2 linked regions of the Homo sapiens genome follow. The protein of the gene in region 2 interacts with the protein of the main gene of each other region in a pairwise test. Each region holds a gene or a part of one and is shown on either strand. Other genes may lie near its edges.

The links. The genes of interacting proteins can lie anywhere in the genome.
Region 1: the proteins of APOA5 (region 2) and MORN4 interact in binary tests that used the Homo sapiens proteins (3 or more experiments, as listed by UniProt).

What each region holds. Positions count from the first base shown.
Region 1 is NC_000010.11:97,623,374-97,627,022, reverse strand, and holds part of MORN4 (MORN repeat-containing protein 4), read left to right. Parts: intron 1-3,649. UniProt on the Homo sapiens protein: Plays a role in promoting axonal degeneration following neuronal injury by toxic insult or trauma.
Region 2 is NC_000011.10:116,789,753-116,793,501, forward strand, and holds the start of APOA5 (apolipoprotein A-V precursor), read right to left. Parts: upstream 2,128-3,749; 5' UTR 2,109-2,127; coding exon 2,060-2,108; intron 1,946-2,059; coding exon 1,834-1,945; intron 1,316-1,833; coding exon 376-1,315; 3' UTR 1-375. UniProt on the Homo sapiens protein: Minor apolipoprotein mainly associated with HDL and to a lesser extent with VLDL. May also be associated with chylomicrons.

The DNA of each region.
Region 1 (3,649 bases), on a different chromosome or scaffold from region 2:
CACTTTGGGAGGCCAAGGCGGGAGGATCACCTGAGGTCAGGAGTTCAAGACCAGCCTGGCCAACATGGTAAAACCCTGTCTCTACTGAAAATACAAAATTAGCTGGGCGTGGTGGCAGGGGCCTGTAATCCCAGCTACTTGGGAGGCTGGGGCAAGAGAATCGCTTGAACCTGGGAGGCAGAGGTTACAGTGAGCTGAGACTGCACCATTGCACTCCAGCCTGGGCCACAGGAATGAAACTCTGTCTAAAAAAAAAAAAAAAAAAAAATCTGGGCACAGTGGCTCATGCCTGTAATCCCAGCACTTTGGAAGGCTGAGATGGGTGGCTCACCTGAGGTCAGGAGTTCGAGACCAGCCTGACCAACATGGTGAAGCCCTGTCTCTACTAAAAATACAAAAATTAGCCAGCCATGGTGACGGTCACCTGAAATCCCAGCTATTCGAGAGGCTGAGGCAGGAGAATTACTTGAACTCGGGAGGTGGAGGTTGCAGTGAGCCGACATTGCACCACTGCACTCCAGTCTGGGCCACAGAGCAAGACTCCGTTTCAAGAAAAAAAAAAAAAGAGAGAGAACAAGCATCAGAACATATTATGATTATGATTATGATTATGATTATGATTATGATTATTATTATTATTATTTTTGAGTCAGAGTCTCGCTCTGTCACCCAGGCTGGAGACCAGTGGCATGATCTTGGCTCACTGCAACCTCCACCTCCCAGATTCAAGTGATTCTCCTGTCTCAGCCTCTCAAGTAGCTGGGACTACAGGCATGTGCCACCACGCCTGGCTAATTTTTGTGTTTTTAGTAAAGACAGGGCTTCACCATGTTGGCCAGGCTGGTCTCGAACTCCTGACCTCAGGTGATCCATCTTAGCCTCCCAAAGTGCTGGGATTACAGGCGTGAGCCACTGTGCCCAGCCCGCTTGTTCTCTTTAAAAAAAAAAAAAAAAAAGGCATGAGGCTGGGTGTGGTGGCTCATGCTTATAATCCTAGCACTTTCGGAGGCCAAGGCCAGAGATTGCTTGAGGCTAGGAGTTTGAGATTAGCCTGGGCAACATAGTGGGACACGGTCTCTACAAAAAAGTTAGTTGGGCATGGTGGTGTGTGCCTATAGTCCTAGCTACTTGGGAGGCTGGGGCAGAAGGGTTGCTTGAGCCCACAAGTTCAGGGTTGCAGTGAGTTATGATCAAGCGATTGCACACCAGCATGGGCAACAGAGCGACACACTGTCTCCTTAAAAAACAAAAAATCGTTATGACATGAGGCCAAAATAAAAATATCCTGTAGGATGTTGATAAAGAGTGGATGGGTGGCAACTATAGTTTGTTTTTCCTCTACTTAGTATTCAGCTCTTTAGTCAAAATTGCTGAGATTTTCTTTTTCAAAGTGTTGTTTGAATTACATTGGTAGCAGTTTTTACTGAGGAAAGACCTAGAGAAGTTTTCATTACAGTAAGTATATGTGTGAGTTTAAGTGTAAAACTTTGAAAGAGGAAAGAAACTAACATTTAGTGGACAGGCCCTAGCAGTGTTCTAGGTACTTACGTGTGTGTCATTTTCTTTCTTTTATTTTTCTTTTCTGTCACCCACTGACTCTCAGATATTTAATTTAATCCACCTGCCAACTATGTGAAATACATATCTTATCTCCACTTTACAGATGAGGAGACTGAGATTTAGAGATACTTAAATACCTTGCCCATAATTATACAGTGAACTCATATTTGAACTCAAGTCCTCCTGTGCTCAGAGTCTACAACACCACCATATTATCCTGGGAGGCCAGATAGGATAGTATGGTATAAGTTAGCAAGTTACTGTAAGAACTTGTGCCAGCAAGGCCAGCTGTCAGAGCTCTGATTCTAACTTTCACGTGTTAGTTTCCACATGTATGACCTTAGTTAATTTACTTATCCTCTCTGCACCTTAGTTTCCTCATCCCTAAAGTGGAAATAATAATAATACCCACCCCAAAAAGTTGTTGTGAGATGAAATTAGATAATATATTTTAAAAACACTGATGCTCATGCCGTGTGCGGTGACTCACGCCTGTATTCTTAGCACTTTGGGAGGCCGCGGCAGGTGGATCACCTGAGGTCAGGATCACCTGAGGTCACCTGACCAACATGGTGAAACCCCATCTCTACTGAAAATACAAAATTAGCCAGGCGTGGTGGCGCATGCCTGTAATCCCAGCTACTTGGGAGGCTGAGGCGGAGGTTGGAGTGAGCAAAGATCGCGCCATTGCACTCCAGCCTGGGGAAGAATAACAGTGAAACTCCGTCTCAAAAACAAAACAAAACAAAAAACACTGATGCTCACACCAGTAATCCCAGCTACTTGGGAAGCTGATGAGGAAGAATCACTTGAGGCCAGGAGTTCGGGACCAGTCTAGGCACCATAGCGATACCCATCTCAACAAAAAATTTGAAAAGTAGCTGGGTGTGTTGGCACACACCTCTAGTCCCAGCTACTGGAGAGGATGAAGCGGGAGGATCACTTTAGCCCAGAAGTTTGAGACTGCAGTGAGCTCTAATCACAATCACACTACTGCATTCCAGGCTGGGTAACTGAGTGAGACCCCATCTCTTAAAACAAAACAAATAAACAACACTGATGGAACACAGTAAGAGGTCAGTAAATGTTAGCTTCTGTTATAAAGGTATTTCAGACAGCTTCTCTGGGGTTAGTGCAATTGATTATTAGAGAGGGTTGTGCCACCTGAATTGAAATATAAATAATCTAGCACTGTCCACCATGACAATGTGGAGAAAGCAAATTTAACATATGGGTTGTTTTAGTTGAACATTTAAAGCATCACTTTTGCATAAAATATACCAGACCCCTTTTGTGCTATGAAACTATGGAACCCACTCTTTGGAACTCCATCTTGACTGGATGAGGTTTTGGCTTCCCTGGGACTTGAAGGAAAAGGAAGCTAGCTGTTGGCGCCAGGCCCCCGAGATTTAAGAATCCCATCTTGCGGCCAGGCACGGTGGCTCATGCCTGTAATCCCAGCACTTTGGGAGGCCAAGGCGGGCGGATCACGAGGTCAGGAGATTGAGACCATCCTGGCTAACACGGTGAAACTCCATCTCTACTAAAAAATACAAAAAGTTAGTGGGGCGTCGTGGTGGGCACCTGTAGTCCCAGCTACTCGGGAGGCTGAGGCAGGAGAATGGCATGAACCCGGGAGGCAGAGCTTGCAGTCAGCCGAGATCATGCCACTGCACTCCAGCCTGGGCAACAGAGTGAGACTCTGTCTCAAAAAAAGAAAAAAAAAAAAAAAGAATCCCGTCTTGTTTTGAGCTGGGAGCAGTGGCATGCACCTGTAGTTCCAGCTACTCAGAAGTCTAAGAGGGGATTGGAGGATCTCTTGAACCTAGGAGTTCAAGTCCAGCCTGGGTAACATAATGAGACCCTGTCTCTAAAAGAAAAAAGAATTCTTTCCTGTTTCTCCACCAGGTCTGGCCCCAGTACTCTGAGGAGAATGTGTCCTTGTCCTGTTGGAACTCAGTCAGATGCCTGAGGGTCAGACTCTAGGTTACTTATTAATCAGAGGGGACTTTTTTTTTGGAGGGGGACAGGGTCTCGCTCTGTCACCCAGGCTGTAGTGGCACTGTCATGACTTACTGCAGCCTCAGAC
Region 2 (3,749 bases):
CTAGAGCCAAACTCCAGGATGTAGTGGCACAGGCTTCCAGCATCACGGCAAACAGGCTTGCAGATAATCACCCACATGCATGGTGCCTCTCCCTCCCTACTCCCTCACCCTTGAATGGAGTAACTCATGAGCATTCCCAAATGAGCACTGGGAGGCTGGGTTTGCAAAGCCTGGTGAATGTAATGCATCCAGATTGGGGAGTCGCAGGAGGCTGGATGTGCAGGAGACAGCAGCCCCTTTGGTGGCCTCCCTGTCCTGCACAGGACCTTCCACCCTCCACCCAACAGGCCACTTTCAAGGACTGAACCATGCTAGAGGCTCAGAGCCAAGGCTCCCCAGACAAGGAGCTGGGAATGGGCCTGGGCAGGTAGATCCTCAGGGGTCCCCCAGATGGCTGTGGCCCTGGTCATGAAGGCTGTGAGTGATGTCTTCCCACAGGTCATCCAGACGGGCCTGCAGCTTGCTCAGAACCTTGCCACTGTCTGTTTGTTGAAACTCTGGGGCGAAGGCACTGTGGCCTGGTGGAGGTGGCGCCAGCTGCTGCTGGACCTCCTCAGTCTCCTGGTCGATGGCGCGAGTGAAGGCAGCTATCTGCAGGTAGGTGTCCTGGCGGAAAGCCTGAAGTCGCTGGCGCACCTCCTCGGAGAGCATCTGGGGGTCCGGGCCGGCCCCTTCCTCAGTCCCAGTGCCTGCAAAGGCTCTGCTGAGCTCTTCGCGCAGCTGGTCCAGGTTCTGCTGGATGCGTGCGTGCAGGGCCTTGGCCTTGAGCGTGAGCTTCCGGGAGAGCACCTGCACGCAGCGACTGAGGCGCGCGGGGCTGGCGGGGGCGTGCGGAGCCACACTGCGGTGCAGCTCCTGCACGTGGCGCCCGATGCCGCTCACCAGGCTCTCGGCGTATGGGTGGAAGAGCTCTTTGAAGCGGCCGGTGTGGTGCACCACGCGGCTCTGCAGTCCCTGCAGCAAAGCCCAAGCCTCGTCCACGCCCCCCAGCAACTGGGCCTTGGTGTCTTCCCCCACCACGCGCAACTGCTCCTGCAGCTCCTGCACGCGCAGGGCCACCTGCTCCATCAGATCCATCGTGTAGGGCTTCAGTTGCTGCCGCAAGCCCTCCAAATTCCAGCCCACCAGCTCGTGCGCCTCTGCCATGTAGGGCTGGAGGCGAGCCTTCACCTCCTCCAACTCCTCCTGCAGCTGCCGCCGCATGCCCACCGGGTCCTGTGGGAGCCGAGGAGCCTCGCTCCCACTCAGAGGCCTCAGCTTTTCCAGGAACTTGTTCATATTGTTGAGGTCTTGCTCAAGGCTGTCTTTCAGGGTCCTGGAGAAGGGGACAGATATCCAGGCCGTCAGACTGCTAGCCTCCATCATCTCCTTTGTCCCCAAGTCATCGCGCACTGATCCTCTGGGGGAACCAAGGACGCAGGGCGTTGGCCCCAGGGTCGAGGGCTCTTGTCCTAGCCCTGGCCAGTAACAACTCACGCACGAAGCACAAACACATTGCCCATACAAATCCAGACCTACAACACTCTCCAAAGAAACATAGATGCGCCACATCATCCTTTGATTCTGGGGACTGCAGCGGGCGTCCTCCCGATTGATCCCAGGTCCCGCGCCTCAGTGAGCAAGGGGGCAACAGCTACGGAGTTGTCAAGGCGGGGGCTGCAGGCAGAGGGCGCTAAAGAGCCCAGGATGGCCGGGATCTGCAGACAGAGCTAGCACCGCTCCTTTCCTCTGTCCCAGCAGCGGCCACAGAGGTTGAGGCAGCAGAGGCAGGTCATCATGGCATGGCCCAGCTGTCTCCTCCCTTCGCCTACACCCCTTCCCCTGGGCACTCACGCGGGCTCGCGAGCCATCTTCTGCTGATGGATCTGCTCCACCCTGCCTTTGTCCCCGCTGGTCTGGCTGAAGTAGTCCCAGAAGCCTTTCCGTGCCTGGGTGGCCGAAAACGCTGTGGAGAGGGACTAGGTAATCAGGGCCTGGGCTCTCCTCCCCCAGGGTGGACAGGGCCCTCTGGCCAGCCTCCACCCACACCCCCACGTTGAAGTCAGGGTCGGAGACCCACCTGAAAGAAGAGCCAGAGCCCAGGTGAGCACGGCAGCCATGCTTGCCATTACCTGCTCTGAGAAGACAGGTGGAGGGAGGCCTGGTTAGGGGAAGAAGGAGACGAAGGGACATGGCGCAGGGGACTTGCCCAGGGGGCCTCTGCAGGGGCAACTGCCCGAAATCCTGTTACCCCTTCCTTGGGCTGGGGAGCACAGAGCTGTTGGGGCTCAAGAGGACTGACCTAGGTGAGTCAAGGAGGCTAGGGTGTCTTCCTCAGACATGGGAAGAGGGCGTGCTCTTGCTACCTCAGTCACATAGCAGGGAGCGTGGTGCTCTAACCCCTTCGCAAAGGTCCCAGACCCCAGGAACAGTTCTCTAGGCCACTTCTACCACCTCTCCCCTGCCCACCTGTCTCCCTCCCTCCCATTTCATGGTGGAAAAACTGAGCCATAATGAGGGCGAAGAGGCAACTCTGCCAAAATGTTCCAAGAGGACGTCTTAGGGGCCACCCCAGGCTCTCCCCTGAGGCCACCTGCAATGCCCTCCCTTAGGACTGTGACCCCCATCCCTCTGCCCCAGCTGCTCACCTGCTCACGTCTGGGCACAGAGAGCAGACATTCTGCTTTATACTCCAGGGCCCTGAGCCTCTGGCACCAATTGCTCTGAGTAAATACCACGTGGAAGTTCAAAAGAAGTTGACCTCAGCTGCCTCCCAGCACTCACCTCCTGCCCTTTCCCTGGCACCCAGAGGGTTAATGAGTGCCCTGGTATCAGGGGCTGCCCCAGTAGAGAAGTGCTTCCCAGGAGCTTTACGGGGGATGGGGCTGAACTCCTCACCCAGTTTCTCCCAAACCCCATGACCTTTAACCTTCCCACTGACCTGCTGGCTGGCCCACCAACAGAGAAGAACCTGTTTGTCTGCCAAGGGCCCCTCTCTTACACAACTACCCAGAGTCACTGTGTCCCAGCCGGCAAGATGGACAGTGTTCACCTACCAGCCAGAACCCGAGCAGCCCCTGAAAGCTTCACTACAGGTTCCGCAGGCATCCTCAGCCAGCATTCATAGGGTTAAAGACCAACCACATCCCTCTTTATGAAACAATCCTGGAACAAGCAAGGGAAGCCAGGCAGGGTGAAGATGAGATGGCAAGAGGCATCTGGGCCAGGGACTCTGAGCCCCAGGAACTGGAGCGAAAGTGAGATTTGCCCCATGAGGAAAAGCTGAACTCCACTCGCAGGGCCTCTGAGGAGAGCAAGCCCAAATGCTCAGATCTTCTCTGATGACACACCCACTCCGTCTACAGTACTCATACACACGTTCACAAGCTCCCGATTCTTGGTCCTAAATGCATCTTGAATCAATCCCCTCTCCTCCATTTCCACTACCATCATTGCACCAGTTGTCTGTCACCTTGATTGCATTCATAGCCTCCAACAGGTCTTTCTACCACACTCCTGCCCATTTAATTCATCCTCCACTGTGGCTCATCCTGACTCATTTCCAGTCTCATCTGCTGCCACATAAAACCACGGCATTCCCTGAGCCTTTATACAGGCTTCCCTCTGCTTGAAATAGCCTATCCCCTGGTGAATATATATTCATTTTTTAGAGTTAGTTTGTATTAGTTAGAATTAGACTTGGCTGCAAGGGACATATATATGTGTGTATATATATACACACACACATGTATATTTTATATTCTTGCATA